2 linked regions of the Homo sapiens genome follow. The protein of the gene in region 2 interacts with the protein of the main gene of each other region in a pairwise test. Each region holds a gene or a part of one and is shown on either strand. Other genes may lie near its edges.

The links.
Region 1: the proteins of PARD3 (region 2) and MYBPC3 interact in a two-hybrid assay, tested with the Homo sapiens proteins (one study listed by IntAct).

What each region holds. Positions count from the first base shown.
Region 1 is NC_000011.10:47,335,703-47,342,702, reverse strand, and holds part of MYBPC3 (myosin-binding protein C, cardiac-type), read left to right. Parts: coding exon 1-125; intron 126-546; coding exon 547-712; intron 713-1,458; coding exon 1,459-1,565; intron 1,566-1,670; coding exon 1,671-1,700; intron 1,701-2,912; coding exon 2,913-3,052; intron 3,053-3,298; coding exon 3,299-3,379; intron 3,380-4,023; coding exon 4,024-4,183; intron 4,184-4,908; coding exon 4,909-5,013; intron 5,014-5,123; coding exon 5,124-5,312; intron 5,313-6,691; coding exon 6,692-6,826; intron 6,827-7,000. UniProt on the Homo sapiens protein: Thick filament-associated protein located in the crossbridge region of vertebrate striated muscle a bands. In vitro it binds MHC, F-actin and native thin filaments, and modifies the activity of actin-activated myosin ATPase.
Region 2 is NC_000010.11:34,109,061-34,112,440, reverse strand, and holds the end of PARD3 (partitioning defective 3 homolog), read left to right. Parts: intron 1-878; coding exon 879-1,272; 3' UTR 1,273-2,880; downstream 2,881-3,380. UniProt on the Homo sapiens protein: Adapter protein involved in asymmetrical cell division and cell polarization processes. Seems to play a central role in the formation of epithelial tight junctions. Targets the phosphatase PTEN to cell junctions.

The sequences.
Region 1 (7,000 bases), on a different chromosome or scaffold from region 2:
ATACCGGTTCAAGAAGGACGGGCAGAGACACCACCTGATCATCAACGAGGCCATGCTGGAGGACGCGGGGCACTATGCACTGTGCACTAGCGGGGGCCAGGCGCTGGCTGAGCTCATTGTGCAGGGTGAGCCTGGCTGGGGGGGCACATGAGGCTTTAGGGCTTGGACCCCTCAGCCCCCACCCCACCTAGCCCTGTAGGGGAGCAGGCAAACCTGGGCTCAAGGCCTCTGTGACCTTGGGCCTTTGACAGCCTAAACCTCATCCTTCTCATCTCTAAAATGACGATGCTGAGGTGACCGCTCCAGAGGGTACTGAGAGGGTCATACGGGCCTGGTGAGCATCACCACCCCTCAGACACTTGAGGTTCCTTATGTGCACTGCACCATCACAGGCAAACATGGCACACACAGGCACACGTGTTTTCACATGCCCACATGCACCCAGACACGTGCGCACCAGCGCCCATGGGCCCACACGCCCTCCACAGGGATTCACGCCACACCCACACACCCTCCCGAGCTCAATGGCTCTGCCCTGCCCTGCAGAAAAGAAGCTGGAGGTGTACCAGAGCATCGCAGACCTGATGGTGGGCGCAAAGGACCAGGCGGTGTTCAAATGTGAGGTCTCAGATGAGAATGTTCGGGGTGTGTGGCTGAAGAATGGGAAGGAGCTGGTGCCCGACAGCCGCATAAAGGTGTCCCACATCGGGCGGTGAGTGTGCAGGGCAGGTGGATGGGACAGGTGGAGACTGAGATGGAGACAGAGAGAGACACAGGGAGAAACAGAGAGAGAGAGATAAAGACAGGTGGACAGAGAGGCAGATGCACAGAGACAGGACAGAGACTGAGACAGAGACCCACAGAGAGGGAGAAACAGACAGACCCAAAAAGACAAAGAGACAGAAAGACAGAAATAGTTCTATAGAGACAGAAAGATATGCACAGGGAGGCACACACATAGGAGAGTTCGTCAGAGACAGAGAAGAACAGAGGGACAGAGACAAAGAGGCAGCAGGGAGAGACACGGACGGGGTCGAGCGCTCCCCAGCACCCTCCCCCAGCTTGTGACCAGGGCAGGGCAGGAGGCCACCAAGGAGGCCGGCTCTGGCCAGAGGCCCTCACTGCCTCTCCCGCCCTCTTGCTCATCCCTGGAGCAACTGGGCTGGCCGTGCTGGGCCCAAGTTCACAGAGATTAATGAGACCCAGCCCCTGCCCAGTCTCCAAGGGCCCAGCCAAGGAGATGCTTTGATGTAGAAATCACTTTTACGCTGCCTACCTCTGAAGGCACATTAAAAAGCTGGAAAATTAGATAATATAGAAAAAAAAAGGCATTTTTAAAAATCAGAATACCAACAAGCCAGGACAAGGTGAGGGCCTCCTGGGACCCTGGCTGGGGTATCTGGCAAGGCCAGGGGTGTGTGGCCCAGTGGGGTCCCCTGAGCCACTGCTCCCCTGCAGGGTCCACAAACTGACCATTGACGACGTCACACCTGCCGACGAGGCTGACTACAGCTTTGTGCCCGAGGGCTTCGCCTGCAACCTGTCAGCCAAGCTCCACTTCATGGGTGAGCCTGCTCCAGGGTAGGGTGGGTCGGGGCAGTGGGGCCAGGAGCCCCTGTCACTGGGCCCTGCCTTTGCCCCCGTGCTACTTGCTCTTCCTTCTCTTGCAGAGGTCAAGATTGACTTCGTACCCAGGCAGGGTAAGTCTTGGGGCCCCTGAGTCTTGGTTCTGCTCACTTTCCCGCAACCCACCCACGCAGGCCTCCCCTCCACTCACAGAGGGAAGAGCAAGGATCAAAAGTGGGGGTCCTGGGGCCCAGCTTCAGCTTTGCCACTCATGACCATGGGTCAATTATAATCTCTGTGAGCCTCAGTTTCCTCTTCTCTAAAATGGGAACCCTGATAGTGCCACCTCATAGGATAGTTATAAAGATGAGGTGACATGATGTATCAGACCTGTCAAGTGCTGTCACATGTGTGACTGTTATTATTACATCTTTTCTTCTTCTTCCTTTTTTTTTATTTTTATTTTTTTTGAGACGGAGTCTCCCTCTGTCGCCCACGCTGGAGAGAAGTGGCGCGATCTCGGCTCACTGCAAGCTCCGCCTCCCAGGTTCACACCACTCTCCTGCCTCAGCCTCCTGAGTAGCTGGGACTACAGGCGCCCGCCACCATGCCCAGCTAATTATTTTTTGTATTTTTAGTAGAGACGGGGTTTCACCATGTTAGCCAGGATGGTTTCGATCTCCTGATCTCATGATCTGCCTGCCTCGGCCTCCCAAAGTGCTGGGATTACAGGCGTGAGCCACTGCGTCCAGACTGCTTTGCTTTGTTTAACTGAGGGCAGATTCCTGATTTATTTGGCCAGGGAACCTTTTTAATGTGTGCATGTGTGCGTGCATGTGTGCGCGCGTGTGTGTGTGTGCATGTGTCTGTGTGTGTATGTATATATGTGTGTCTGTGTCTGTGTGTGTGCGTGTATGTATGTGTATTTGTGTCTGTGTGCATGTGTGTGTCTGTGTGTGCATGTGTGTATGTGTATGTGTGTCTGTGTGTATGTGTATATGCGTGTGTGTGTGTGTATTGTGTGTGTGTGTATGTGTGTGGCAAGACACTGATGTTCCCCCAGTTTTCAAAATGCTATGCTAGGTGACCTGACCTGAATATTACAAGCCTCCCAGCCAACGTCCTGGGGTGATGGGAATGTTCCAGATCTTGGTTGGATTAATAATTGCATGGGTGTATTCATCTGTCAGAACTCAGCCTACTGTCAGATCTGAGCATAAACTATACCTCAATACAAATCTAAAAAACCAATAACCAGGGGCCCAGGCTCTTGAGCAGCCCCGCCCCAGTGACCTGTGCTCCTCCTGGCTCTCCCGTTTCTCTGAACTACATTGTGTCTTCTGCAGAACCTCCCAAGATCCACCTGGACTGCCCAGGCCGCATACCAGACACCATTGTGGTTGTAGCTGGAAATAAGCTACGTCTGGACGTCCCTATCTCTGGGGACCCTGCTCCCACTGTGATCTGGCAGAAGGCTATCACGCAGGTACTGTGGGTCCCTCCTCAGTCTCCCCATCTATAAGATGGGTGTGTGGAACCAGCCAAGTGCTAGGACCTGCTGCACACCCCACCCACATGTGCACGCCCTGCTGTTGGCTACCCCATGGGAGAGACTGGTCAGGGGGCAGGCAAGGTGGGCAGTGTGGGTCAGGGGGTGGAAGAAGCAGCAGAGGGGCGCTTCCAGGCTGAGTCAGCTCCTCTGCTCCCTACTTCCCTCCTGCCCTGTTCCCAGGGGAATAAGGCCCCAGCCAGGCCAGCCCCAGATGCCCCAGAGGACACAGGTGACAGCGATGAGTGGGTGTTTGACAAGAAGGTGAGTGAGACTGAGGTCAGGAGGAGGCTCGTTTGTCTTTCATCACTTTCTACCTACGTGGTGCCGAGCCCTTGGCGAGGTCTCCATGGAGGTGCCACACTTGGCCGGGTGTGTTGCTGCCCCCAGCAGGGTCCCTGTGGGGCCCTCACACCTCAGGCAGAGGGTCTCTGTGAAGTGTGCTGATGGCCATCACAAGGATGTGGACACCCTCTCATTGCCAGGAAGCCCTCATGACTGGGCTGCTCCCTGGCTCCCTTCATCCTAAGCTGACCTTGACCTTGACCTTGTGCTCCCTCTCAACTCAGGAGTAGTTTCTGAGACACTTTTCTGCCAGTGTAGCTGCCGGGGTCTTGCTCCTGCCTGGCACTGTTGGTTCTTCTGAAGGCTGGGGTCTTGAGGGGTCCTCATGATAGCTCATCTGAGAGGACAGGTGGTTGCCCCAGGTCCCGTGACAAAGCTAGAACCCGAGCCCCTGCCCTCAGTCGGTGCCACAGAGATGATTTTGAACTAGATGCTGACGTGGATGCAGTCTTCCCACAGGCTGTGTTCCCCCCATGGACCCCCGGGACATCTGGCTGTTGGCGGAGGCTGCAAGGGCCTCTGGGGTCTGACTTGGATCTCACCCCAACTCTGCACCCCCCCAGCTGCTGTGTGAGACCGAGGGCCGGGTCCGCGTGGAGACCACCAAGGACCGCAGCATCTTCACGGTCGAGGGGGCAGAGAAGGAAGATGAGGGCGTCTACACGGTCACAGTGAAGAACCCTGTGGGCGAGGACCAGGTCAACCTCACAGTCAAGGTCATCGGTGAGGCCGGCCGGGGTCCAAGCTGGAGAACACAGAGGGGCAGCCCCAAGGAGGGCCCATCCGTTCGCTCATTCAGCCACTCGACAAACATCACGGGCATGCTCCCTGAGCCGAGCGGCAACAGGACAGGTTTTTCTGCCCAAAAGGAGCCCCGCTCTGGGGGAGATGGAGGCAGATGCATCCAGCAGATTTCCTGCGACACTGCTGTACATGAGCCATGTCCAGAGTGCCGTGGGAGCACTGAGCAGAGAGCCATCCCTGTGCCTGGGGGTGATGCCTTTAGGAGGCTGAGAAGATGGTGAGGAAAGGCATCCCAGGCAGAGGAAACTGTGTACAAAGGGGTGGAGGAGGGAAAGGGCCTTTTGGGTGTGGAGAATGAATGAAACATGTCAGGAGAGGACTGGGTGGGGTTGGGAGGATCAGAGCCAGGACAGGGGTGAATATGGGCAGTGAGAAGCCTTAAAGGGTTGACGGAGGGCTGGCGACATGATCAGAAATGCATCCTGTTGAGACCCAGCCTGGACAACACAGTGAGACTCCATATCACTAAAAAAAAAAAAAAAAAAAGGAAAAGAAGAAAGAAATGCATTCTAGAAAGATCTCTTTGGATCTGGGGGTGGTGGGGGCAGCCTGTGGCGGTTAGTTGGAGTGGGAAGGGGACGAGCAACGTTACTCAAGGCCCTGAGCGGGGCAGGGCTGATGTGGGTCCATCCCACCCCATCCAGACGTGCCAGACGCACCTGCGGCCCCCAAGATCAGCAACGTGGGAGAGGACTCCTGCACAGTACAGTGGGAGCCGCCTGCCTACGATGGCGGGCAGCCCATCCTGGGTGAGTGCAAGGGCACCGGATGGAGGTGTGAGGGCGCCAAACAGATCCGAGGGAAGGTGGTGTGGGGATGCCTGGGTTCCAGACCAGAGCTGCCACCTCCCCTGAGCCAGGCTACATCCTGGAGCGCAAGAAGAAGAAGAGCTACCGGTGGATGCGGCTGAACTTCGACCTGATTCAGGAGCTGAGTCATGAAGCGCGGCGCATGATCGAGGGCGTGGTGTACGAGATGCGCGTCTACGCGGTCAACGCCATCGGCATGTCCAGGCCCAGCCCTGCCTCCCAGCCCTTCATGCCTATCGGTGAGCCTGCCTGGCCTGGTCCTGCCCCCCGCCCCCTCCCCAGTTAAAAACCTCCAATAATAGCAGGTGCTCTGCAGGCAGCCATGCTAGACACTCACATCCACAGTCTCCTTTCATCCTCGACTGGGGATACTCAGCCGCATTTTACAGATGAGGAAACAGGCTCCAAGCAGTTAAATGACCTGCTTGAGATCTCCCAGCTGGTTGGGGTGGAGCTGACTCTCACACTACGCCGACCCCTAGTTCACGTTTCAAGCCTCTCTTTCCATGTCTACAAAATGGGAATAATGACACTGCCTATCTCAGAGAGCTGTTAGGATGATATGGGATGACCAGGCAGGCCATCTGGCATCTAACAGGTGCTCAATAAATGTTCATTGTCCCCTGTTCTCCACACCCTTCAACCCAGGGTTTTCACCTATGGGATGGGGCAAGGGCTGTAGTTAGTGGAGGGGTCTCAGGGGCATCTGTCTGTGGAAAGAGTCCTGGACCAAGACTCAGAGATGGCAGAGGCAGCTCCATGGTCCCCGGGGGGCCAACTGGAGTCATCCCTCCCTGAAGCCTCAGCTTCCTCATCTGTATAATGGGGTCTGAGTGGGCAGAACAGGTGTTGAGACTGTGGCAGGGCTCAGGAGGACACCTGTTCCCACTAGGGTGGGTGAGTCCGGGGGCAGCTGCCTGTGGCAAGGGCAGGCCAAGGACCCCTGGGCCCAGGGATGGGGCACAGCTTGGGAAGATGGCAGGAATCGGGGCCTGTGGGGAGAAGGGTCCAGGCCTCTCGTTTTAGGGACTGATTCCTGGTTTGTTCAGTTCTTAGTCAACTCACCTAATCATACGTGCCAGGAAATTCCCATGTTTTCTGTAGTTTTAGTTTTAGTTTTTTTTTTTTTTTTTTTTTTTTGAGATGGAGTCTCGCTCTGTCACCCAGACTGGAGTGCAGTCCTGGCGCGATCTGGGGTCACTGTAACCTTCACCTCCCAGGTTCAAGCAATTCTCCCACCTCAGCCTTCTGAGTAGCTGGGATTACAGGCATCCACCACCATGCCCAGCTAATTTTTGTATTTTTGTAGAGACGGAGTTTCACCATGTTGGCCAGGCTGGTCTTGAACTCCTGACCTCAGGTGATCCTCCCACCTCGGCCTCCCAAAGTGCTGGGATTACAGGCGTGAGCCACCGTGCCTGGCTGCTGTTGCTGTTTGTTTTTAAGCCAATCTACAGACATGTCTTGTAACAGGGACAAAATATTCCTTAAAGTGGCCAAAAGCCAGCTGAACAGGAAGTGCCCCCTATGTGACCAGTGGGCAGTTCAGAGTCTAGGGCATGGATCTCCAGCTTCCCCAGGCTTGCTCAGACCCCTCTCTGACCTCTCCTCTGCCCAGGTCCCCCCAGCGAACCCACCCACCTGGCAGTAGAGGACGTCTCTGACACCACGGTCTCCCTCAAGTGGCGGCCCCCAGAGCGCGTGGGAGCAGGAGGCCTGGATGGCTACAGCGTGGAGTACTGCCCAGAGGGCTGTGAGTGTCCCCGCCCCCAACCCCCCTCCCCAAAGGAAGAACATGCTCACCTTGCCATTGAGCAGATTCACCTGTAGTCAAGTTTTTTAGGCCCACTTTTGCCGAAAGTTGAGGACACCCAGAGAAATATCTGTCCTGTTTTCAGAAGTAAAAAAGCTTGCCTAGTGAAAAACA
Region 2 (3,380 bases):
ATTCATAAAACCATCTAGAGACTTGATAGTAAATTAAAGATGTTTCAAAACAATAATGTTTCCTGGAAATCATGCCCAACTCTGTTGCAGAAGTGGGAAGAATTTGAAATTTCCATGTGACTCTGATTTACTTGCCTATCCTGGGGTGACAGAAAGCAAGTTAAGTAGGTCACCCTGGCCTTTGGTGAAGGTAAATGTATAAGAAAATAGTGCTTACTTTACAGACTTCCGGACTCTCCGTCCAATCTGGATGAGCAGGTATCCCGGAGAGTGTAAGTTGCTGACATACACAACTTGAAAGCCAGAGCTTTAAGGGACTGCCTGTTGCATTTTTTATCATAAAGGAGTCTAGACTTAAATCTTTCATAACCGAACTCATACTGTAATCCATTACATGTACTTCATATTAGCTAGCGCTTCTGGCATTATGGTGGCAGCTGTGTAAAATATTTGTTGTGCTTGTTTAGAATTGAATTGTAATGTTCTAAAGCGAGCAATTATTCCTACCATGGAAGCTGCCAAACCTCTAATACTTCTATACTTTGCCAGTGTGTCTAAATTGCAGGAGATATTGGTACCCTAAGCAGAACAGACACAACCTTCTCAGACACAGGAGGATGACCCTGTTTCTAAATAGCTGCACAGTCTAGTTCTCTCTCCTGTTTACTCGTTGTTAGTTTAGTTGTCTAAGACTATGCGCTTGCTGAGGACAGTCATTTTTGAATTCTCCAGCCCCTATCGCAGTGTCTGGCATGTGATGAGAGAACAGGAATATTTGTTGAAAAGTGAAAATGCATATTCCATCCCATCCTGCCCCCTTTCCTCCCTCTCCCTCCTTCTTCCTACCCTCACACTAACCTTTGGGTTTTGCTTTCTAGGCAAAGCAGGAAAAATGCCAGCTCGGTCTCCCAGGACTCTTGGGAGCAGAACTACTCCCCTGGGGAAGGCTTCCAGAGTGCCAAAGAGAACCCCAGGTACTCCAGCTACCAAGGCTCCAGGAACGGCTACCTGGGAGGACATGGCTTCAACGCCAGGGTCATGCTGGAAACTCAGGAGCTCCTTCGCCAGGAACAGAGGCGGAAGGAGCAGCAGATGAAGAAGCAGCCTCCTTCCGAGGGGCCCAGCAACTATGACTCGTATAAGAAAGTCCAGGACCCCAGTTACGCCCCTCCCAAGGGGCCCTTCCGGCAAGATGTGCCCCCCTCCCCTTCTCAGGTTGCGAGGCTGAACAGACTTCAGACTCCTGAGAAAGGGAGGCCCTTCTATTCCTGAGCACGCAAATAACGGATGCTTCATGTCGCGCAATAAAAGACATTTTCCTATGAAGACTTGTATTTTGGGAGTTTTTTTAAAACCTCGATGGTACTATGGAGTATTTCTGTTGTTGGTATCAGTGCCTTTAAGCGGTGTAGGCAAAGAAATGGAAGGCCTTAATGTCTTTGCCACTATGTCTCAAGTGTCTGTTTCATGGAAGGATTTCCCACCCTGTGACAATCATCTGTTTGAGGTGTTCATATGCTCTGCGCCTCTCCACAGTACCAGGAATCTCGGCCCTACTCATGAGTTGTCCGCGGCTTGGTTGTAACATCCCTGCACCACTTGCAGTGACAAATTCACCTGAAGTGGAGGATGACGTGCGGCCCTGTTTCTCCCTCTAAGTTCTCTTAGCTATGGGATGACATCTTAGTCTCTGGTGGAGGAAAAGTGGGCGACATACACCAAAAATTGGGGCTTTCTGGTACTTCACAGCACAGCCATTTGTCGTACTTTGTCATCACTGTGGTTTTCTCTTTCCTTTCTCAGCTCTTTGTGACGGGAGAGTCGGTCATCCTATTACAGAAGCTAAGCCATAGTCCAACATTGTTTGGTCACCATGGGGGTCCTTTTGTAACTGCCTTATGACTCAACATTACCAATAAAGTGATGATCCTGGTCTGCGTTTATACATACGCTTGTTCGGTCCTGTTCCTGACACGTGGGTTGAGTCACCACAGCTCTGTGTGGGGAACGTGGGAGACAGGAGTGGCTCCTGCCGGGGGAAGCTGGGCCTGCCATTGGCCCTGTGTCTATCATGAGGGGAGAGCTAAGAAAGAAATTCTCCTAGGAAGAGCTCATGGCCCAGTACATCCTAGTAATTATTTTAATTAGTTTTTGTTCTGACAGCTTGTCAGGAAGGGCACAGAATGGGACAGAGATAAACCAGACAGTCATTTTGATCTGCTCTCTACGGTTTTTCAAGTCAGAGGCAATTGATGCTTGTCTAATGCATCCACACACTGCATGTCTGACTGGCGATGCCGCGCTCCTAAGTAGTTCTGCCATGAAACATAAAAGACAAAGGAAAAGCCGTTACACATCACACAGAGAACATTTTCGGGTCCCACAGCGGTGGTGGCAGGAAGCTCACTCTCGCGTCAGTATTAGAGTGTGTGTGTGGGTCTCGGGGATCTCGGTGGCTCCCATCTTCCTTCATTGTTCTGAACATCCTGTATTGTAAACCATGGCTGGGGTGCTAAAGTGCCTGTGAATCCCGATGTGGAAAAAGCTGGAGGTGAAAGCTCAGCATACCATGTATTTACTTTAAAAACAGAAAAAAAGACATGTATGGATATGTCTATTTTTTTTTTATTGGCACATTGTATTTTTGTGTTGACTTGTTTTTAGAAATGATGTGTCCACACACGTACCCGTGTCTCTTCTGCATTTCTGTGTCATGGTTCTGTTTCTTAATCACGTGCGGCGGTGTCTAAGTGGTGTTACCAGTGTACGCGCAGTGACCTTGGATGACAGTGGCTCTTTCTCACAGCCTCCCCTGAGCTGTGAGAAACAGCTTTCTCTGTACATATGCAACTCCTAATAAAAGGCATATTTCTTCCTGTTCTTTTGGTGTCTCTGGTGTTCCTGGGCAGCCTTGCCTAGCTGGGCTTTTTTAAAAGGTCTATTAACAGATGTGATTTTTTTTTTTTTTTTATATTTAGAGAAAGTTGGAAGTTTCCTCACATCTGAGGAAAGTTTGCAGGAAAGGGGGCAGGAGAACCCTGGGGCCCACTCTTGGATGAGGATGGAGAGGGGGGACTCACCTGTCCCTTGGAAAAGATGGTCCCCATTATGACATCATTCTCACTCTTAGTCCATTAAGACAATATACAGTCTTACAGTTGGAAGTCTCAAAGTGGGAAGTTTGCAAACACAGGAACTGGTGGTTGATTGCGTATTTGAGCACCTGAGGAGAGAGGGGAAGGGGAGAGACAAGAACCTTCATGAGTCCACTGCAAGGCCCAGGCTGCCTGAAGAAGCCTGAGGAGTTCTGAATTGAAGGAGCCAGTACAGCTCGAACTAAATGAATGAAAAATTATGCAGAAAGCGACATGATAGTCCCA